Homo sapiens: one gene and its partner. The protein of the gene in region 1 binds, or shares a complex with, the protein of each later gene. Each region holds a gene or a part of one and is shown on either strand. Other genes may lie near its edges.

Region 1 (16,640 bases):
GAGCTGGTGGAAGTTGTGCAGCCGTACCACATAAGGCATCTCAAACTGGGCCTGTCAGAGACAGAAAGAGAGAGAGAGTGTTGGGGAAGACACACAAGAGAGAACTACTTCCCCAAGGATTAAAAAAAGTTTTACTTTAGTGCTTCCCCAATCCCTAACTTCTCCTTCACCTCTTCATCCCCAGCAGAAGAAAATAGCTGATGCAAATACAGAAAAAGAAGAGGACTAAAGAGTACCACTTCTTTCCAGAGAGAGTGGTTCTTTACCTCAGGGTCACGGTCCTTCTCCCTACAGGCTCGGACCTCATTGTACAGCTTGGAGGAAGAGATGGGAGCCAGAAAGGAAGTGTACTCCCCGGGGATGCTCACACCATCATCTGCACAGCAGGAGAGTCAAATTAGTTCCAGAGGGAGGGAAATGGTATGTCTGTACTAACTGAAGGATCAGAAGGATCAAACCTCCCATGTCAAAACCAACCAACGTTGGCATGGGCATGGAAGAAAGAGACAAATGCATGTTGTCACATTACTAAGCCAGCCTGCTTCCAACTACTGTCATGGAGGATTCCACTACTAGGTTAATTTACAGAGTCACACAGATTAAAACTGAAAGAACCCAAGATAGTCTAATCTGGTGGTTCTTAACTTTTGTGGGGTCACAAAGTCCCACAAAAGTTCCTGATGAAAGCTAAGCTCAGGGTACATATGTCATATTTATTTATTTATTTATTTATTTATTTATTTATTTGAGATGGAGTCTCGCTCTGTTGCCCAGGCTGGAGTGCAGTGGCACAATCTCAGCTCACTGCAACCTTCTCCTCCCAGGTTCAAGTGATTCTCGCGCCTCAGCCTCCCGAGTAGCTGGGATTACAGGCGTGCACCGCCACGCCTGGCTAATTTTTGTATTTTTAGTAGTGATGGGGTTTCGCCATGTTGCCCAGGCTGGTCTCAAACTCCTGACCTCCCGCCTTGGCCTCCCAAAGTGCTGCAATTACAGGCATGAGCCACCGCGCCCAGCCCACTCCCTTCATTTTACAAATATGAACACTAAGGTTTGGAGAGATGACTTCATTTGCTAGGGGCACAGAGGCAGTGAAGCAGTGGCTCTCAAACTCATATGATGTGACCCAGGTCCAACCCACTTTCCCCTAAACCCTGTACCCTCCTCCCAGGTTGCTGTCTCACCCATCATCACCCTCCACCTACACCCCAACCTGGGGGCACCTTTTAGGAAGTGCTGGGCTCCATCCAGGCACTCAGGCGACAATTCATTGTCAGCAAATGAGCCCAGAAGCTCACTGACAATGATGTCTGCTTTCTCTGGAGCCACCCATTCCCTCATGTCTGATGAGACTACGGTCACTTGGCTTCCCCATTCTTCAAACTGCCAGTTCTCTAGCCTGAAACAGAGACAATAAGGTAAGGAGAGATGTTAAGGAAATTTGGCAATGAGGACTAACTTCCCAGCAAGCAGGTTGCTACTCACGTCACCACGGCATTTGGGTTTTTCTCCACAGCATACAGCTTTATCCGCCGGTCGGCCTGCTTGGCTGCCCGCAGGGAAGCGTTCACCAGGGGTCCCCGTCCTGCTCCCAGCACCATCAGTACCCTAAGAAAGAAAGGGAAGAGTCAAGCAGACTTGGCATATACAGATATAGGTATGCAAGTCCCTGAGATTGAGGGGAAAGCACTCACTGGACATTGGTATCCTTCTCCTCTTCTGGTACTCGGTCTAGCAGACATTTATAGATGGCCTGGAGGGAGGAGAGAATATCCCATGGTTGTAATCCCATCCTCCCCAGGTCATGCTGGCCCTGTGCTTTCCTCACCCTGGGCACCACACAGTACCTGCTGGTACTGAGAGTATTTGATGGGGTCCTTTTCAAACACTTCATATGTCTGAGATTCCAGATTGTCCATCAGTGGCTGATGAATGAGGAAAAGGACAAAGTTAGCCAGTTTCTGGCAAAGGACAATGCACTAAAATATCAAAAACTTTCCACTGCTTTCTGAGTTTTAGTAAGATTTGGAGGCATATATTCTCAAGAAACATTTTCCATCCCACCTTCCTCCTCTAAGTGCACTCCAGACCCACCTGAAGCGGGGACTGCAGATAGTCTTCATAGCCCTTGGCAAAGAGTTCATAGGCATTAGGTGGAGGACGGTTCTGGCTTAAGTATTCCAGGTATTGGAGGTAGGAGCAGAACTCCTTCTCTGAGTGGTGGTTGGTGCCTGTGATGATGAACTGCACCTCCAACTGTGAGAAAAGTCAGACCATCAGACACAGCCCTCAAACCAAGATTCTGGAATATTATGGTATATGGCCAAAGAGCCCTAGTGTAAAATAAGGCCCAGATCAACAGTTCTCTTTTTTTTTTTTTTTAAAAAAAAAGATGGAGTCTCGCTCTATTGCCCAGGCTGGAGTGCAATGGCGTGATCTTGGCTCACTTGCAACCTCCACCTCCCAGGTTCAAGCAATTCTCCTGCCTCAGCCTCCCAAGTAGCTGGGACTACAGGTGCGTGCCACCATGCTTGGCTAATTTTTGTATTTTTAGTAGAGACGGGGTTTCACCATGTTGGACAGGCTGGTCTCAAACTCCTGACCTCAGATGATCCATCCGCCTCAGCCTCCCAAAGTCCTGGGATTACAGGCGCGAGCCACTGCACCTGGCCCAGACCAACAGTTCTCTAGCGTCTGTCCCAATACCAACAAAGGCAGCATGAGGCTTCAGTAAACTTATAAAAAGCCCCCTTGGCCGGGCGTGGTGGCCCACGCCTGTAATCCCAATACTTTGGAAGGCCGAGGCGGGTGGATCATTTGAGGTCAGGCGTTCAAGACCAGCCTGGCCAACATGATAAAACCTGTCTCTACTGAAAATACAAAAATTAGCCGGGCAGTAGTGGTGCATTCCTATAATCCCAGCTACTCAGGAGGCTAAAGCAGAAGAATCGCTTAAGCCTGGGAGGCAGAGGTTCTGGTGAGCTGAGATGGTATGGCTGCACTCCAGTCTGGGTAACAGAGTGAGACCCTGTCTCAAAAAAAAAAAGAAAAAAGAAAAAGCCCTCTTATGCCATGAAAGTATCAACACCCAAACAGCCTCATGGATCCTTGCTGTAACTTCCTAAATGAAACCTTCTGCAAAGTTCTCATGAGGTTTGGTTTGTTTTGAAAGGTTTCTAGGGCTACTACTGGCATTTACCTTTTTGTTCTCAAGATTCCCAACTTCACTGAAATTGCTCCCCAGAAACCAAAGAAAAAGAGTCAGCCTCACAGGAAAAAACGATCATACACAGGTAAATAAGGCAAGATGTATAGCTGGACTACCTTTAGAACCCTCCTACCACTCACCTTGAGGAGCCGGAAGATGAGCCTCTGGTGCATCTTAGAAAGAACAGGAAATCCCTTCTTATTGGTCAGGAAAATGCTAGTGGGGAGAATGGCTGCTTTGATGGGCTCCCCAAGCCAGCGATCAATGACATGATTAGATGGGAGGTCAGCCCCAATTTCAAGAGCTACATGAGGCAAAAGAAAAACTGTCAACCACTGCCAGGCAAGAAACCCTTCCTTGCTCCTTTGCGCAAAATCTGTTTACTTCTTTAAGAGAAAGCCAGTCTGAGACAGAGGGGAAGTAGCAAAATTGTATACTATATATGAAATTCCTGATTCTTATTCACAGGAGGTAAGAGAAGCCACACCCATCCCAGGATTCTCATGGACTCACCCACTGCAATCCTCTTACTATAGTCACACAAAGTCCGGAAGTTGTGCCACCTGTTCAGTCAAATACAGAAAAGTACAGTAAACTAGATATGGCCGACCAATCACCACAGCTCAAGGAGACCTCCCTACAGGTTGCACCCTGTACTTCCCCTCACCCTATCCCTTGCACCCTGGTACAGCAGCAAAGGGAGACATACCACATCCACGTTTTCTCCTCCCCACTGTACTCCTCTGTGTGTGTAGTTGGTGCATTCTCAATTATATCATCTCTCAGGTCCTCTGGTGCCACCAAGGGTACCCGCATCCAGAACTGCACATGAACAGTCACCCTTTTAGAACTCTCTTTTGAACTCATTGGGTCCAGAAAGTTTCCCTCAATAAAAAAAACTTCATCCAGACCTCGTTAATCCCTTTATATGCTTTTCCCAATTTGTAATTTTGTAAGTGAACATGTACCTTATATATAGATCCTTATGTAAATATCTGCCTTGTCTTACGTAAGTTTCCAAAATAATTACATTTACATGTTTTGAAACTCTCTTCATACCACTTTTAGATGGAGAGGTGCGCAATACTGACCTTTTTTTTTTTTTTTTTTTGAGACAAGGTCTGGCTCTGTCACCCAGGCTGGAGTGCAGTGGTGCAATCTCAGCTAACTGCAACCTCCGCCTCACAGGTTCAAGTCATCCTCCCACCTCAGCTTCCCAAGTAGCTGGGACTACAGGCGTGTGACACCCCACCTAGCTAATTTGTGTTTTTTTGTTTTTGTTTTGGTTTTGGTTTTTTATACAGACAGGATTTCACCACGCTGCCCAAGCTGGTCTCGAACTCCTGAGCTCAGTGATCTGCCCACCTCAGCCTCCCAAAGTGCTGGGATTACAGGCATCACCCACTGTGCCCGCCAATACTGATACTTCAATTCTGCCAAACACACCCTTCACTGAATGGCTAGGCACAAGAAGGTACTTAGCACAATCTGACTACTATGATATGCAGCAGGAAAGGAGCCCCTCAGCTATACCATGGAAGAGTGATGGCCAGTGTGGATGTGGTTGGTCAAAACTCTGGCCAGGTTGGTGTTATCTTCCTGATTAAGGGGCAGCAGGAAAGCTGGAAGACCCAAATATGCACCAAAATTCAGCTCCTGTAACATGGCCTGGAACGGAGATGAAGAGGAAAAGTTTGAGCTAACAAGCAAACAGCTTTTTTTTTTTTTTTTTTGAGACAAAGTCTCACTCTGTCACCCAGGCTGGAGTGCAGTGGCACAGTCTCCACTCACTGCAGCCTTGACCTTCCCAAGCTCAACTGATCCTCCCTCCTCAGCCTCCTGAGTAGCTGGGACCACAGGCATGCACCACCATGCCTGGCTAATTTTTGTATATTTTATAGAGATGGGGTTTCACTACGCTGCCCAGGCTGGTCTCGAAATCCCGAGCTCCAGTGATCCTACAGCCTCAGCCTCCCAAAGTGCTAGGATTATAGGTGTGCACCACAGCACCCAGCCTAATAGCTTTAATTTCATTCTATCAGTTAATTTACCAAGTTATTGGGGATGGGAGGGGACCACTCTCCCCACCCAGCTTGGTTAGAAAAATCCAGCAGAGAAGTCAAACAGTCTTACCGCCTCGGAGTTCCTGCGAATCTTCTCCACTTTTGAGTCTGGACGAATCCATGGAGAAAGCTTTCCCACAATTAGCGTATTCCAGTCTGCACTCCCCCACCCAAGAAAGACAAATACTGAATAAGGTTCAGCACTTTACTTGTTCAATTTTTAGTTTTGGGAATCAAGAGTAGAAATGAGAGACAAAGGTTTTTTCTACATAGACATGGGATAGCCTGATGCAGAATAGAGAAGCAAGGAGAAAACAAGTTATCTATATCCCAGGGACTAACAAATATATCCAAGTCAGAAAAGGAGGAGAATGAGGGCCCCGATAAAGCAGAAGTTGTTATTGCCTCTAATAATTAAGGGGCATATGGGATGGTCCCTACCCCTTCCTGACAGCAGTAGGTCTGATCGTGTCTGGGGACCGGGCCGATTCTTAGCAGGTTCCTGAATGAACTCCCTCTTGAAACGCGGATGGAAGACAGGCATGCAGAGGAAATCAAACCTACAACCGCGACAGACCCAGAATCATGTAAAGACAGCAGCAGTGCCAGAGAGCCAAGCAACTGGATTTAGGCTATCTTGATTTTGCACAGCCCTTTCAGCTGCCATCAGTTCAGCCTACTAGGCTGCTGAGTTCAGACCACCTTGGGGGATATCAACTCTGCTGTACTGTGCCTCAATTTCTCCCTAAAACACAGCCATGGGACATATGAGTAAGGAGAAAATGATGGATATCCACAAGTAGAATTTTTTTCTCCTCAGGTGTCAGTATGTTTCCAAGACCATCACATCCAGATTTGCCCCAGTTCTGCCCATGCCTCCCCCGTCAAAATTAGCCTCTTCTCTCCCTTGCCCCCTAACACCTCCTCCCACTCCCAGACAATAATCGCGACCTCCAGGGCCCTTTAGAGTTTACCCAACAACTCTCCCAACTTTGGGACTCAGTGACCACAGGCCTCCCACAAGTTATTTTCCTCACGTTACTGGGTCCGAGGCTCCTCCCCTCCAAAGAGTAATAGTCTCTCCCCTCCTCATCCTAGCCGACCCCCTCACCCCTGCTTCTCCGGGATGACTAGTCTGCCCTTCTCCGTCCCCGAGTTCGGACCCCGCATTCCGCTCGTGGAGGTCCGGCCCTCACCCCTGCTTGGCCACAGCCCCTAGTGTGTCAGCTATTTCGGGGACGCAATTCAGGTCCCTCCCGCTGGACACGCGGCTCCCACCAGCACCCCCGACCGCCATCGCCGCCATCTTTCTCCTCGCGCTGTCCACGCCGGGATTCCTTGATACTAGTAGCCAATCACAAAGTCAAACTAGTGCCCCAGAAGGCGGGACGAGTCGCCTTAACAACCAGAGCGTCTGCCACAGCTCCCGAACAGGAGGGATGGGGAGTGGCTTTTCCTGCCAATCCGCGGGCTGCACAGTGGCGTACGGCATGGATCCACCAATCTCAGGGTCTGGTTCCTGACGAACTTCAATCTCCCAGAATGCTTAGTCTATCTGAAGAACGCCGTTGAGAGACTACACCGCCCATGAAACCCTGCAGTATAACCTTGAAGTACCATCACGGAGAGAAACAGTGCCATCTCAGGGCCAGTGGCGCAATGGATAACGCGTCTGACTACGGATCAGAAGATTCCAGGTTCGACTCCTGGCTGGCTCGGTGGGGTTCCTCGCAGCTTCGCTGCGTGAGCATTTTGTAATTTTCCTTTCCTTTCGCAGCTTGATGCTTCTTTATTATCTTCACGCTTTCATTATCAGATCCTGAGTCGGTTGGGTTATGCAGCCATGTAATGTCAGCTTTTCCCGTAACTACCCTCAAAAGTGTTTTTCTTGTGTCATTATTTACGTCCATATGAACACTGAGAAAACTGGGTTAATGGCTGGTGCTATTAAAATGAGCTTTGTCACCTTACTATGTTACATATTAAAATAAACTGCTAACTCAGCTACTACTTCCTAGTGATTCTAGGAAGTAGTGTTTTGTGTTTCAAACACAAAAGGTGTAAATAAACGCCTAAACACACACACACACCTCAAGATAGAGAAAAGGAATTCATTAATTACAGTGGGCAGCAGTCATGAAATTGGCTGGCATGGAGGCCAGAGAGAATCTACATTTTCTCATGTCATTAGCTGCTAGAGATGGAAAGGAAGGAAGCAAGGAAAGACATAGGGAGGTAAATGGGAACTCCAGAAGGCAGGGGGCCCACTGGTGTTGAGGGCTCGGCAGCAAGGATGGAGAGGAGAACACGGTACAAGAGACCCCACGCAGGCGCCGCTGGCAGAACTTAGGGACCGACTGGCAAGGAGTCCTGAGAAAGCAAAGTAGGGGGTGATGCCTAGGATTCTGTCCATGCAGTGAGCAAGAAATGCGGAAAGAGGGTTTGGGAAATCAGGGTTTGGGTTTGGTCATGCTGAATTGAACGTCTAGGGGGCGCTGTGTAATAGAAAGTTGGATGGAGGTCGCTAGAAGAAAAGAACTGAGGCCATGCGACTGAGATCACCATAGCTCGTTGGGGACAGAGCCATAGGAAATACGAAAAGGGTGTGGGGTAGGATAAGTTCTGGGGAACCCTGGGTGCAATGCAAGTGCCCCAAAAGAATGAAAGCCGGAAAACCGGCCGGGCGCGGTGGCTCACGCCTGTAATCCCAGCACTTTGGAAAGCGGAGGCGGGTGGATCTCCTGAGGTCAGGAGTTCGAGACCAGCCTGGCCAACATGAAAACTCCCCGTCTCTCCTAAACGTGGTAGCAGGCGCCTGTAATCCCAGCTACTCGGCCAGCTACTCGGGAGGCTGAAGCAGGAGAACTGCTTGAACCCGGCAGGCGGAGGTTGCAGTGAGCCAAGATCACGCCACTGCACTCCAGCCTGGGCAACAAGAGCAAAATAATGTCGGGGCAGGGGGAGGAGGAAAGGAAAGTCGGAAAAACCAAAGCATTTAAAAAATGCACCATGAAGGCCAGGCTGGGCACAGTGGCTCACGCCCGTAATCCCAGCACTTTGGGAGGGCGAGGCGGGCGGATCACCTGAGGTCGGGAGTTCGAGACTACCCTGACCAACACGGAGAAACCCATCTCTACTAAAAATACAAAATTTAGCCAGACGTGGTGGCGTGCGCCTGTAATACCAGCTACTCAGGAGGCTGAGGCAGGAGAATCACTTGAACCTAGGAGGTGGGAGGTGGAGGCTGCAGTGAGCCTAGATCATGCCGTTGTACTCCAGCCTGGGCAACAGCAAGACTCCGTCTCAAAAAAAAAAACAAAAAAAAACCCCAGCACTTTGGGAGGCCGAAGCAGGCGGATCACGAGGTCAGGTGATCAAGACCATCTTGGCTAACACAGTGAAACCCCGTCTCTACTAAAAAAAATACAAAAAAAATTAGCCGGGTGTGGTGGCAGGCGCCTGTAGTCCCAGCTACTCAGGAGGCTGAGGCAGGAGAATGACCCAGGAGGCAGAGCTTGCAGTGAGCCGAGATCGTGCCACTGCACTCCAGCCTGGGCGAGAGAGCGAGACTCCATCTCAAAAAAAAAAAAAAAAAAAGCTCCATGAAGCCTGAAGTGATTGGAGGTGCTTTTGTCCACTATTATCGTTACTATTTTTCTGCTCCAGGATCCCATGCAGCATATCATATGACATTTAGTTGCTATGTCTCCTTAGGCTCCTCTTGGCTATGACAGTTTCTCAGATGTTCCTTGTTTTTGATGACTTTGGTAGTTTTGAGGAGTACTGGTTAGGTATATTGTAGGATGCCCCTCTATTGGAATTTGTCTGTTTGTCTCATGATTAGACTGTGTTTTGGGAAGGAAGGTCACAGAGTTAAAGTGCTGTTTTTGCCGGGGGCAGTGGCTCAGGCCTGTAATCCCAGCACTTTAGGAGGCCGAGGCAGGCAGATCACCTGAGGTCAGGAATTCGAGACCAGCCTGGCCAACATGGTGAAACCCCGTCTCTACTAAAAATACAAAAATTAGCCAGGAATGGTGGCATGCGCCTGTAATACCAGCTACTCGGAGGCTGAGGCAGGAGAACTGCTTGAAACTGGGAAGCAGAGGCTGCAGTGAGCCGAGATCACACCACTGCACTCCAAGCCTGGGTGACAGAGCGAGACTCCATCTCAAAAAAATAAAAGTGCTATTTTAATCACATCATATCAAGGGTACATACTATGAACATGATTTATGACTTAATGTTGACCTTGATCACCTGAAAAGAAGTAGTTTATCCAGTTTTTCCACTGTTAAGTGATTCTCTCCCACCCTCTCCCCGGCCCCAACTTTCCATACTGTATTCATTGGAAGGAAGTCACTATGCTCCCCCTCCTTAGAGTTGGAGTATCTACAGAATTTATTTGGAATTCTTCCCTCCAGGTCTTTCCAATAAATGGTTGTTCTCAGCAAGTGGGTGAGTACTCCACCAGCATTTTATTTATTTATATTTTATTTCATTTTTCATTTTATTTTGAGACAGAGTCTTGCTCTGTCGCCCAGGCTGGCGTGCAGTGGCATGATCTCAGCTCACTGCAACCTCCACCTCCCGGGTTCAAGCAATTCTCCTGCCTCAGCCTCCCAAGTAGCTGGGACCACAGGTGTGCACCACCATGCCTGGCTAATTTTTGTATTTTTAGTAGAGACGGGGTTTCACCATGTTGGCCAGGCTGGTTTCAAACTCCTGACCTCAGGTGATTCACCCACCTCGGCCTCCCAAAGTGCTGGGATTACAGGTGTGAGTCATGACGCCCCACTTTCACTGGCATTTTAAGAGGTAAAAGAAAGAGTTGTTGAGGAGGTCTGCTTGTTCTCTGCCCTAGTTGTGCCCAGCCAAACTCTACATTCACAGAAGACTTGTTAGATGTTTTTTCTTCTTTAGAAGCTAATTGTCTAGATTGTGGACCATCTGTGCTCCTGGCATCTCACTCCTGATGTCAAGCAGGTAGCTGCTCTGTTGGTTGTTAACTAACCCATCATGGGTGACAGGGAGAGAGGACAATCTATAAAACAATAATGTCAGTTTTGCCATCAGTTAAAGTAATTTTCTAAAGGATTCATGTAAAAAGAACCTAGAATTTCTGACTGACCCTAAAGTAAGTTTACATGGGCTGAATTTCTTTGGTCTGTGCTGTCTTTGTCTTTTCATTCCAAATGGCCTCGGCATTGTGGCTAGCATCATGCTGAACAGTTCTCAGTAACTCCATACCACGTTGCTCTCAGCCTTTTCTATAGCACTTTCCTGTGCCATAAAACACAGCATGTAACCGTGGGTCTGTCTACATGAGTTGTAGAGGAGCAAGAAGGGAAGGAATGAAGAGAAATAGAGCGCCTTGAACAGGTCCTGTCCCTAGGCGTTAAGTCAAAGTTGGTGAAGTCTACATTATGTTCTGCTTTGCTCTGCTCTGCATGCTGAGTTTTTGGGCCCAGAAGTGTGTGAATCACTGTTATACTATGGGACTTTTGCCTTGGCTGAGATGAAGATAGGGAAATGGTGGGACAGAAGGGCAAATACCCTGGGTGAGAAATAATGTTACTTTCTCCAACAGGAGCCAATGACCAATAGGCCAGAGCACTGGAGACTTTCTGGAAGAAAGAGGTACCCACTCCCAGATAATGCTCCCACTTATCCCCCTGGCTTTCCTCGCTTTCAGGCCCAATTCTTCCACCTTATCTTGTTCTTTTGTCCTTGTTTAAACACCTCTAGCCCATTGAAAACCTCTTGGCATCTTCTACTGTGCTCCCCTCCTCCCTCAGCGCTTGCCTCCCTCCCCAGGCCCACCTTCACTCATCTCTGTGCCTGCCCAGCCAGCCACACTCTTCAACACCAAAATAATGGCCTGTTTGACCCTCCTACTGCTCCAAATTTCTTTTTCACAATCAAGGCTGTACTCCAGCTATGAAAGTGGCAGAGTTACTGAGGCAAAATAATCTGTGCAGATTTGCATTCTCTTTTTTGTCATCTCTATTATACAGTGTTTATCTGTCAAAATGAATAGAAAGCAGGAACTGTTCTGAACATAGAAAAAGATGGAAAACTACCCAATTTATTTATGAAGACAGAACACATCTAATATCAAAACCTGTCAGAAATAACACTCCCAAAAAAGCTATAGACCCTTACTTATGGATATAAATGTTAGATTCCTAAAATATTTAAGATTAATAAATAAAACGTAACAGTATGTTAATATAGTAATTATATAATACAACCAATTAGGGTTTATACCAATAATTAATACAAAGGTATTAGGAAATTTCTTTATAGAATAGGTCAAAAATAAACCAAACAAAAAATATTTGACGGTTGTTAATTGTCAAAGAAGAGAACACAGTATGTTAACTGCATTTTCTATAAATATTCTTTTTTTTTTTTGAGACAGTCTCGCTCTGTCGCCCAGGCTGAAGTGCAGTGGCGCGATCTCAACTCACTGAAACCTCCATCTCCTGGGTTCAAGCAATTCTCCTGCCTCAGCCTCCCGAGTAGCTGGGACTACAGGCGTGTGCCACCATGCCCGGCTAATTTTTTTTGTATTTTTATTACAGACAGGGTTTCATCGTATTGGCCAGACTGATCTCAAACTCCTGACCTCGTGATCCGCCCGCCTTGGCCTCCCAAAATGCTGAGATTAGAGGCATGAGCCACCGCACTTGGCCATAAATATTCTTAATAGTTTTGATATTCATCATGTATGTGTATATATAAGATCAAAAACTTATGTAAAGATGAAATGAGCTGCCCTGCATGGTTGTAAGTGCCTGTAGTCCCAGATACTCAGGAGACTGAGATGGGAGGATCCCTTGAGCCCAGGAGCTCGAGGTCAGCCTGGGCAACACGATGAGACCTTTTCTTAAAAAAAAAAAAAAAAGATACAAGAATATCTAGTCTCATCACTGAGTTATTTAGTATTATTCTGAAAAATCCAATATAATAAGATTGGAAATAGAAAAAAAGGGGTTACAACTTTTAGGAAGGGAGAGGTAAATTTATCATTATTTGTAGATAATATGATTGTACACATAGAAAATGCGTAAGAATCCATTTTAAAATGATGAGAATTAATACTAGAATGCAGAGAAGTAACTTGATGTAAGATAAGTATAAAATAAATCTGTAGCTTCTCATATACTAAGATTAACCAGTTAGAAGACATTATTGATTTTTAAAAATCCCAATAATATGATAGTTAAGAGTATGGCCTGCTAAACCAGATAGCAAGACGTTAAAGCCCTGTTCATTCATTTACTAGGACTGTGAACCTAACCCTTCTGGCCTCAGTTTTCTCATCCACAAAATGGGAATGTAAATAATAGCTCTTATAAAGTCATTATGAATATTAAATTAGTTAACATAGTAAAGCATTTAGAAGCTACCCTGCACATAGTAAACCTTCAATACATATTGGCTATTGTGATTATTATTTTCCCCATTCACAGTGGTAACAGTAACACTACTATAAAATATTTATCTTTACTGAAAAATGTGAGAAACTGACATAAAGAAAATTATAGGCTGGTTACAGTGGCTTATGCTTGTAATCCCAACACTTTGGGAGGCCGAGGCAGGAGGATTGCTTGAGCCTAGGAGTTCAAGGCCAGCCTAGGCAACATAACAATACCCCATCTCTACAAAAAAATTTTAAAAATTAGCTGGGCGTCAGCCTGGCCAACATGGTGAAACCCCGTCTCTACTGAAAATACAAAAATTAGCTGGGTGTGGTGGCACATGCCTGTAATCCCAGCTACTCGGGAGGCTGAGGCGAGAGAATCCCTTGAACCTTGGAGGCAGAGATTACCGTGAGCCGAGATTGTGCCGCTGCACTCCAGTCTGGGCGACAGAGTGAGACCCTGTCTCAAAAAAAAAATTAGCAGCCGGGCACGGTGGCTTGTAATCCCAGCACTTTGGGAGGCCGAGGCAGGTGGATCACCTGAGGTGAGGAGTTCGAGACCAGCCTGGCCGACATGGTGAAAGCCTATCTCTACTGAAAATACAAAAATTAGCTGGGCGTGGTGGCAGGCACTTATAATCCCAGCTACTCAGGAGGCTGAGGCAGGATAATTGCTTGAAGCTGGTAGGCGGAGGTTGCAGTGGGCCAAGATCGGGCCATTGTTCTCCAGCCTGGGCAACAAGAGCAAAACTCCATCTCAAAAAAAAAAAAAATGACCTGGGCATTGTGGCACACACCTGTAGTCCCAGCTACCCAAGAGGCTGAGGTGGGAGGACTGCTTGAGCCCAGGAAGTTGAGTCTGCAGTGAGCTGTGATCAAACCACTGCACTCCAGCCTGAGTGACAGAGCAAGACCCTATCAAAAAGGAAAAAAAAAAAATTGCTGCAAGATAAAATAGAAGACTAAAAAAAAAATGGAGAAACAAGCCATAATCTTAGAAAATAATGAATCTTATAAAGATGTAAATTCTTACCAAATTAATTTCTCAAGTTCTCACTTTTACAACATTCAATTACGATTCTTTTTTTTTGTTTTTTGAGACGGAGTCTCGCTCTGTCACCCAGGCTGGAGTGCAGTGGCACGATCTCAGCTCACTGCAAGCTCCGCCTCCCAGGTTCATGCCATTCTCCTGCCTCAGCCTTCCAAGTAGCTGGGACTACAGGCGCCCGCCACCACGCCCGGCTAATTTTTTGTATTTTTAGTAGAGATGGGGTTTCACCGTGTTAGCCACGGTGGTCTCAATCTCCTGACCTCGTGATCCACCCGCCTCGGCCTCCCAAAGTGGGGGGATTACAGGCGTGAGCCACTGCGCCCGGCCCATTCAATCACAATTCTAATGGAATCTTTTGTTACTTGATAAAATAATTCTACTGTTAATCTGCAATAAAAATCAGACAAGAAAAGCAAGGAAAACTCAAAAAGAGAGGAGAAAGAGGCCAGGGAGTGGTGGATTTTTTTTTTTTTTTTTTTTTTTTTTTTTTTTGAGACACCTCTGCCTCTCAGGCTCAAGTGATTCTCCTGCTTCAGCCTCCCAAGCAGCTGGGATTACAGGCGCACGCCACTACTGCCCGGCTAATTTTTGTATTTTCAGTAGAGACGGGGTTTCACCATGTTGGCCAGGTTGGTCTTGAACTCCAGACCTCAAATGATCCACCCACCTCAGCCTCCCAAAGTGCTGGGATTACAGGCGTGAGCCACCACACCCGGCCTCAATGAAATCTTCAGCAGCCATTAAAATCAGTGTTGTCAAAGAAAATGTAGTAACATGGAGAAAGTCTTATGACATGCCATTAAGAGACACACATTACAAATTTTACACACAGAATGACCTCAACTATGTGGAAAAATTGTATTTTCCAAATGTTCTGTATAAGCGTGTTTATATTACACGTAAAATATTTTTTAAAATACATATAAAACCTGTTACCTTGGCCGGGCACGGTGGCTCACGCCTGTAATCCCACCACTTTGGCAGGCTGAGGCAGGCAGATCACCTGAGGTCAGGAGTTCAAGACCAGCTTGGCCATGGTGAAACCCCGTCTCTACTAAAAATACAAAAAATTAGCCAGGCATGGTGGTGTGTGCCTGTAATCACAGCTACTTGGGAGGCTGATGCAGGAGAATCACTTGAACCCGGGAGGCGGAGGTTGCAGTGAGCCGAGATCGCGCTATTGCACTCCAGCCTGGGCAACGAGTGAAACTCTGTCTCAAAAAAATAAAATAAAAATAAATAAACCTGTTACCTCTCCCTGATCTTTGTGCTTATGTCCTTTCTTTTGAAGGTCTAGCCAAGGCCTCCCTCCTTCTCTATAGGCTTGTGTAGCTATCCAGTCTTCAGCAATCATTCTTGCCTCATAACATGATAGTCCTAGCCAGGCTAATATTTATTTATTTATTTATTTTTGTGAGATGGAGTCTCACTCTGTCACCCAGGCTGGAGTGCAGTGGCACAATCACGTCTCACTGCAAGCTCCACCTCCCGGGTTCAAGCAATTCTCTGCCTCAGCCTCCCAAGTAGCTGGGATTGCAGGTGACCGCCACCATGCCTGGCTAATTTTTGTATTTTTAGTTGAGACGGGATTTCACCATCTTGGCTAGGCTGGTCTTGAACTCCTGACCTCGTGGTCCACCTACCTCGGCCTCCCAAAGTGCTGGGATTATAGGCATGAGCCACCATACCCTGCCCAGGCTAATATTAATTAAGCTCTACCACATGCCAGGCACTTTAAATATATTATCTCAAAAGGCTGGGCGCAGTGGGTCATACCTGTAATCCCAGCACTTTGGGAGGCCAAGGTCAGCAGATCACTTGATGTCAGGAGTTCAAGAACAGCTTGGCCAATATAGTAAAACCCCATCTCTACTAAAAACACAAAAAAATTAGCTGAGCCTGGTGGTGCACTTATAATTGTAGTTACTTGGGAGGCTGAGGCAGGAGAATCGCTTGAACCCAGGAGGCGGAGGTTGCGGTGAGCCAAGATAGCGCCATTGAACTCCAGCCTGGGCAACAAGAGCGAAACTCCTTCTCAAAAAAAAAAAAAAAGAAAAAAAAGGAAACAAATATTTTAAAATTTTCTCAGCCCGTTGCAGTGGCTTACCCTTGTGATCCTAACACTTTTGGGAGGCAGAGGTGGGAGGACTGCTTGAGCCCAGGAGCTCCAGACTAACCTGAGCAACAGAGTGAGACCACGTCTCTGCAAAACAAAACAAAACAAAAACCCAGCATGGTGGCACGTGCCTGTAGTCCTAGCTACTAGGGAGGCTGTGGTGGGAGGATCCTTTGAGCCAAGGAGGTTGAGGCTGCAGCTGCACTCCAGCCTGGTTGACAGAGTAAGACCCTGTCTCCCAGAAAAAGAAAACAAACAAGCAAAAAAACTGGGCAAAGGACATGAACAGACACTTCTCTAAAGAAGACATAGATGTTGCCAACAAATATATGGAAAAAATGTTCAATATTACTAATCATTAGAGAAAGGCAAATCAAAACCGCAATAAGATACCATCTCACACCAGTCAGAATGGCTATTATTAAAAAGTCATGCCGGGCGCAGTGGCTCACACCTGTAATCCCAGCACTTTGGGAGGCCGAGACGGGTGGATCACGAGGTCAGATCGAGACCATCCTGGCTAACACAGTGAAACCCTGCCTCTACTAAAAATACAAAAAATTAGCCGGGCGCAGTGGCGGGTACCTGTAGTCCCAGCTACTCGGGAGGCTGAGGCAGGAGAATGGCGTGAACCCGGTAGGTGGAGCTTGCAGTGAGCAGAGATCGTGCCACTGCACTATAGCCTGGGCGACAGAGCAAAACTCTGTCTCAAAAAAAAAAAAAAATGAAAATTAAAAAGTCATGGCTGGGCTGGGCACGGTGGCTCATGCCTGTAA
Region 2 (6,867 bases), on another chromosome or scaffold:
CAAGGTTTAGATGCTGGGGGATCACTGTGGTTCTCTCAATGGCTAAGTGCCTTTCCCTGCCATTTCTAACTTCAAAGTACATGACTAAGTTATAGGCCAGAGAAATCACTGACTCATATCCAAGGTCCAGTATCCTGGACCCTCAGGGTCACTTGGAAATAGTTTTACAATAATGTTGAATGCCCAGCTGTGCGCAGTGGCTTAACGCCTGTAATCCCAGCACTTTGGGAGGCTGAGGCGGGTGGATCATATGAAGTCTAGGAGTCAGAGACTAGTCTGGCCAACATGCCGAAACCTTGACTCTACCAAAAAGTACAAAAATTAGCCAGGCGTAGTGGTGCACATCTGTAATCCCAGCTACTTGGGAGGCTGAGGCCCGAGAAGTGCTTGAACCCTGGAGGCGGAGGTTGCAGTGAGTCGAGATCACGCCACTGCACTCCAGCCTGGGCAACAGAGTGAAACTGTCTCAGGGAAAAAAAAAAAGTCAATGTTCTATGTCTATTATATTTGCTTTTTATTTCTTAGACATATGATGTGCTTTCCTGGTTAATGCTAACTCTTTTTCAGCATTTCTGCCATGCAGCCTTTTTGTTAGTTCTTTGTGTTTGTGTCTTATTCCCCCTGCTGAATTCCAAATCCTTTATTATTTTTCTATTTTTTGTAGAGACAGAGTCTTGCTATGTTGCCCAGGCTGGTCTCAAATTCCTGGGCTCAAGTGGTCTCCTGCCTTGGCCTCCCAAAGTGCTGAGAGATACAGGCATGAGCCACTGCACCCTGCCCCAAAACCTTTGAGGGTAGAGGAACCATGTATTCATCTTTTGTACACCACCATGGTGCTTGTCCCAGAGCTTTGCTTTTTTCAAGTGAGCAATAAATTCCTTTTCTTACTTCTTATCCTGTTGGCTTTCTATGAATTCTAGGGCTAGGAAAGAACTATGGAAACTGGTTTAATTCCATCCTTCTGCCTCAGGGAAGGGCCACATTCAGACTACCTGGGAAAGTCTGGTAAAATGACTGTAGAAAAGGTTTCCACAGCTTCTAATTAACATGTAGCAGTGACTTTAAAGTTTTTTACATGTAGACCTCCTAAAACAGTTTTGAAAATCTGTGCCCCCTCATACATTTTTAAACTGATACCTAAAAATGCTTATTTAAGTAGTTGCAGAGAAGGTAATTTCTGGCATATAATTTATTGTGTGCTTATTTCAAGCATATATTTGTCAAAATTTTAGATTCGCAGGTTAACGCTACTTAGTTTGCATGAATGTCTACCAAACAGCCTAACTGGCAAAAGCCAGTCTGCATTGTAAAGCCAGTGGACCAAGATAGACTAAATTTTCTGTCAGAAAAAGTCTGACTTTGTTTTTAAATTCAGATAAAGTTGTTGAATATGTCCTTATCACAATGATCTATCATATTTTTTAGTTCTCATTATTAGACAGAAACAGAGTTAAGTCACAGAGCCATACTTGTGTTTGTGGTGTGACTGAAACAAGATCAGCCCCCTTCATTGAATTTTACCTAGATGCTCTTTCTTTTTGCTCTTTGGTTCTTATGGAAAAGCCCCTTTTGTCCCTTAGTTTAGAACCCTTATATTTTTATACCCCTGAGCATTGTAGCGTGGAAAGATCTGGGATGAATGACAGGTATGTGTTCTTTCTATGAAGTGGGAGAAGAGTGATTGAAAACAGAGGCAGTTCAATTTTAAGAAAGAGAACATTAGAGAAATTGGCTCTCTTAATACTATTAGCGCCCAGAACTCCCTCAAAAGTTTTTGTATACTACTTGGAGGTGTGTGTACTCCAGTATGAAGACTGCTATTCTAGAATTATTTAGCCCTCACGTCTAGGATGCCTAAACTGGAAATTCCTTTGTTATTCTTACTAAGCCCCTAATTTCTCATTCATTATCTTCACTAATACGTTTTTTTTTTACAAGGCTTTTTAGGTTTTATAAGTCTATAAACTTCTCCTCTTAGCTTTTGTCTAATCCATAATCTCCCACAAAATTTGTTAAATTGCATCATGAGACCAGCCCTCCCTCCCTCCTGCCCCTTGATTATTCCTGGGCTGGCCCTCTAGTAATGCTTCAGCTTGTTTTCTATCATATTTCTCTTTCTCTCTCCTTTATAGCTCATGCTGCTCAGGTCACTTGTGTTGCTGCCTCTCCTCACAAGGACTCTGTGTTTCTTTCATGCAGCGAGGTAAGAGATAGCTCCTTCTTCCCTAAACACACTCCAGCCATCCATAGGCCAAAGTCTCTAGTGGGGAGACTTTCTGGCCTGCAACTGCTCCTTTGGATTATGAAATCCTTTTTCTGTTCCACCTTCCTCTAGGACAATAGAATTTTACTCTGGGATACCCGCTGTCCCAAGCCAGCATCACAGATTGGTGAGTCTGAGATTCATTGGTGGGAGAATAGTACTTGGAACCCTGATAGAAGAGACTGTCTTTGGCCAGTGTCAAAGCATAGTTGCTAGATGCCCAGTGTAGTTACTGTGACATGAGTGACATAATCTCCTTCTTTTCCAGTGAGGCTCTGCTAACCCCATTCTGTGCAATGAATACCAAGAGGAAGGGCCAGTTCCTGGGTGGGTGATTTACTTTATTAGATGGTAGGACAAAGGGGCCAGAATTGTTATCGTCATGATTCGTGCCTGAAACTTGCCTGTGACTCGTGTCCAGAAAGGGCAGGAGGCTGCTGGGATAAATGGTTATGAGGCTCAAGGATGAGGACACTGCTGCCTTAGCAGGGTTTGGGAAATCAAATAAAGGTGCTCCCAGGATTTAGAGTGATATCATTTGAGAAACTGCTTCTTCTGTACTCTGAGTTTTGGTCCAGACCCTCGTCTCTCCTTTGCAGGCTGCAGTGCGCCTGGCTACCTTCCTACCTCGCTGGCTTGGCATCCTCAGCAAAGTGAAGTCTTTGTCTTTGGTAAGGCAGCGTGTCAGACTTCATATTGACTCTGGGAAAGGGGAGGAGGAAAAAGAAAGAGCTGACTCCACAACACACAAGGCCCTTGTTGCTCAGTCTTAGCCCTCATGGACACTAGATGAATTATGAATTGAGGGTGGGGAGGTGGGGTGATGCCAACGTAGTTTTAGTGTAGTTTTGGAGAACATGATTATTTTCCCAGTGGATTTGATTTTTGATTGATTGATCCAGCTTCTGTATTCTGGGCATGGCTATAAGTCAGTGATCCACAAAGCAAGTGGATTGCTATATAGCGAATTCTGTCCTACTGTGGGTAGGTGTAGCGCTATCGTGGTCATGAGGCTGTGTATATGGTGACATAGTTTGTGGTTAAAATAATAACTGCTTCGTTCATTAACTTAATTTTCACAATGATCCAGTGACTTATTATTCCTACTTTGCAAAAGAGAAAACTGATGCTCAGAATGGTTAACTTTTACAAGCTCGAGGAACTAGGATTCAAGTCTTTGGCACAAAAGTCCATGCTCTTAATCACTATGACATGTTCCTTCTCTTCTACAGGTGATGAGAATGGGACAGTCTCCCTTGTGGACACCAAGAGTACAAGCTGTGTCCTGAGCTCAGCTGTACACTCCCAGTGTGTCACTGGGCTGGTGTTCTCCCCACACAGGTACTGTTCTTTGTCATCAGGGGCCTGATGGGTATAAATGGGAACCGTGAGGGTGTGTGTGTATGTTTTCAAAGCATTAGCTGATGAAGTAGTTCCTTAAAGCAGACAGTGTTCTAGCTGAGGTTTCGGAACATCGAAGATCTCTTAAGTGTGAAGTAGAATCCTTTGGGAGTCAAAGGATTTTTCAGATTAGATGGTTTCTGTCTGAAATGGCTAAAATGTGATTTCATTCCTGCCCAACACCCAAAATGGTTAATGTTGTGGGCTTCTAGGACTGTGAGATTGGAAAAGCCTGTGTTTCTGGGTTATTGCTGAAGCTATAGAGAGGGACCAGATGGGGTGGTTAGTTGCCAGGATGGTTGTCAACCCTAACTTTGCTTCATTTCCCTCATCTTTACTTGAAACTTTTAGTGTGGACTTGTAGTAGCCAGATTAGCCAAAAGTGGGAATCAGGCTGCCTCTCCTGGGTCACTTTACAGTGGCGGCAGGGCCGGCCCAGTTAAGGTTTTGTCTTGGGATCCAGGCTGGACCTTTCACAACCCTCTCCTCCATCTGATAGTGTTCCCTTCCTGGCCTCTCTCAGTGAAGACTGCTCACTTGCTGTGCTGGACTCAAGCCTTTCTGAGTTGTAAGTGTGAAGTGGAATCCTTTGGGAATCAGGGAAGGGGAGCAGTGGGTGGGCGAGTCATTTTCCTCTTCAGAAAACTGTGTTGTGCTTTTGGAGAACAGATTCTCCATCTGTATCCGAAGGGACTTGGTAATGGAAGCAGGCTGGCTGTTGACCCTGTCCATTCCTGGGGCACATTCACAACCCCAAGGACAAGCCGTGTCCTTGGTAGAGGGGGGTGGTAGGTGAAATTTTTAAGTCTAGCCCTCCAGCGCTCTCCCACAAGGGGGCGGCAGTCTACCCTCTCACATAAAGAACTGCGTATGAAATGCAGCCTGCTACAGGGTAAAAGGCAGCACCTGGAAGACCTGAATTGTACTTCCCTCCTTGCCGTGATTTGCTGCCTGTTACTGCCCCTCATCACTGTCTTGTTCTATCCAGCATTTCTTCATCTATGAAAATAGAAGACTGGATTGGATGACTGATGACATCCACTGTGGATAGCTACACTGCTATCCTGGCGATGAGGCCATACAGTTGGTGAAATGTGTGTAACACACCCAAAAAATGTGCCCCAGATGTGTTGGGTTCTCTTTTTTTCTCCAGGTCTGCTTTTCTTGTCTCTACTCTGCCCCGACTTTTTTTCTTTCTTCTAGGTTTAGAAGCCAAGCCCACAGAGACTTTGTGAGAGATGCGACTTGGTCCCCGCTCAATCACTCCCTGCTTACCACAGTGGGCTGGGACCATCAGGTCGTCCACCACGTTGTGCCCACAGAACCTCTCCCAGCCCCTGGACCTGCAAGTGTTACTGAGTAGATTGGATTTAAGACAAAAAGCAAGTCCCCCATGAGTGTCCACTTCTTTGCCCTGCCCTCTCAGCTTGTGAGACAACACAGGAGCCTTCTATAGTATGTTGATATGCTAGATCTGTGCCGTTAATAGGCATCGTCTCTCAGCCTGAGGGAGGCTGGATTCTGGGTTCCTGTAGTCACAGGGAGGAAAAGCTTTCTTAAAAATGGACATGTATGTGCGTGTGAGTGTGTGTGTAGATTTATAGTTTTTGGTAGTGGCAGGAATAAAAAAAATCCATCCTACATCTTCCCTAAGCACTGCCTCTCTCTCACCCCCCAAAACAAGTTGACGAAAGGGTTTTATGTAGCTGTCTATGAGGAATTGGCCGTGTCTGGGTGGGTTATGGGATGTGGGCATCCCTGGGTTCTTGGAAGCAGCTCTTATGCTACTCATAGAGATGGGATTGACTTTATTTTTTTATAGTGCTTAATTCACCATTATGAGAAATGCTTCCAGTCACAAAAATGCAGCCCAGCTCACTCTGAGGAAGAAGCAGGACTTGGTACGGTTTTACACAACTCCTTACCATTAAACTGAATCAGAAATCCATTTTCTGGCTGAATAAAAAGTTTGGCTTGCCTGTGTAATGCCCACTCCCTTCCCCCTGGCTCCCTAGTGATGGGACATATATGAGAGAGAAGTGTTTTTCTATCATAGACACCATAGGGGAAAGTTTGGGGATGAAGGAGAGCTTAAAGGTGTTTCAATTAAGTTAGAAAACTGACACAGGCTGTTGAGAATTCTTTGCCACTTTTCCCACCCCAAAACAGCATGGGGCCTGACATCTTCTGCCCTGGTCCCCTTTCTCTTGATGTGGAAAGTCTGAATGCAGTATTTATAGACTTCTAAGGTTTTAAAATCCAGTATCAAGAAGAAAATCAGAAATACTGGTTGGTGAAATAAAGAGTTTAGGCATTGTTGGCCTGTCTTTTTTGAAGCATGTGTGTTATGTGTAGTTAGATATATTTCACTTATGTGAGTCATCATGGTGTTGGTCTTGTAGCCCATTATTTTTCCTGTGCTTCCCCAGCTTCCCAAAGTAGCTAGTTAGAACTTAAGGTAAATATTTATTCTTGGGTTGGTGGAGTGGATATTGCCAGTTAGGAGTCATGGATCAATTACTGATTATATTGAAAGTAAATATAATCAATTATGTACTTTTGAGCTTTGCAGGTTCAATTTAGGTAAAAATCACATTATGAAACTGGGAAAGTCTGAAGGAATATGGGCAAAATATTTCTCAGTAAAGCTTCCATGCTTCACCCTTGACATGATTACCCTTGAGTAAAACATGGGAATTTGTAGTTGTGTGATCCTCTGGCGTTGATGTGGAGTAGGAATAAAGTCTTGCATCATTTTTATAATGTGGGAGGAAATAGAATGGGTAGGTACAATCACTTAAGTTCTGCCTCTCGAAGATAAAACTTTAATTTTGTGGACACTTAGAGAAAGTAAGGGGTGGGGGAGCTTGAGGTGAGTAGGAATTTGCATAGCCCTTTTCTTCCTGGACTTAAGAATGATGGAGAAAAAACTCAGTGAAAGAGATAAGGAAGCAAATGTGTGGAAATGTGTGATAAGGAAGGAAATGTGTCAAGGTGGTTACAATATGGAAGGGAAGCATAGGTTTTTTTTTTCTTTTGTTGAGATGGAGTTTCACTCTTGCTGCCCAGGCTAGTGTGCAGTGGCATGATCTTGGCTCACTGCAACCTTCGCCTCCTGGGTTCAAGCAATTCTCCTGTCTCAGCCTCTTGAGTAGCTGGGATTACAGGCTAATTTTTGTGTGTTTAGTAGAGACAGGGTTTCA

What was found.
Region 2: PRMT5 (region 1) and WDR77 share a complex: the UniProt entries of both Homo sapiens proteins name them as parts of the methylosome complex.

What each region holds. Positions count from the first base shown.
Region 1 is NC_000014.9:22,922,785-22,939,424, forward strand, and holds the start of PRMT5 (protein arginine N-methyltransferase 5), read right to left. Parts: upstream 6,593-16,640; 5' UTR 6,578-6,592; coding exon 6,468-6,577; exon of another isoform or gene 6,442-6,467; coding exon of another isoform or gene 6,383-6,441; intron 5,832-6,382; coding exon 5,713-5,831; intron 5,428-5,712; coding exon 5,342-5,427; intron 4,877-5,341; coding exon 4,742-4,876; intron 4,119-4,741; exon of another isoform or gene 4,031-4,118; coding exon 3,918-4,030; exon of another isoform or gene 3,772-3,917; coding exon 3,722-3,771; exon of another isoform or gene 3,677-3,721; intron 3,513-3,676; coding exon 3,349-3,512; intron 2,257-3,348; coding exon 2,095-2,256; intron 1,926-2,094; coding exon 1,848-1,925; intron 1,754-1,847; coding exon 1,695-1,753; intron 1,658-1,694; exon of another isoform or gene 1,609-1,657; coding exon 1,486-1,608; intron 1,400-1,485; coding exon 1,224-1,399; intron 624-1,223; exon of another isoform or gene 377-623; coding exon 267-376; exon of another isoform or gene 185-266; intron 52-184; coding exon 1-51. UniProt on the Homo sapiens protein: Arginine methyltransferase that can both catalyze the formation of omega-N monomethylarginine (MMA) and symmetrical dimethylarginine (sDMA), with a preference for the formation of MMA.
Region 2 is NC_000001.11:111,439,390-111,446,256, reverse strand, and holds the end of WDR77 (methylosome protein WDR77), read left to right. Parts: intron 1-2,132; coding exon 2,133-2,203; intron 2,204-2,335; coding exon 2,336-2,390; intron 2,391-2,862; coding exon 2,863-2,934; intron 2,935-3,495; coding exon 3,496-3,604; intron 3,605-4,127; coding exon of another isoform or gene 4,128-4,163; coding exon 4,164-4,232; intron 4,233-4,867; coding exon 4,868-5,027; 3' UTR 5,028-6,367; downstream 6,368-6,867. UniProt on the Homo sapiens protein: Non-catalytic component of the methylosome complex, composed of PRMT5, WDR77 and CLNS1A, which modifies specific arginines to dimethylarginines in several spliceosomal Sm proteins and histones.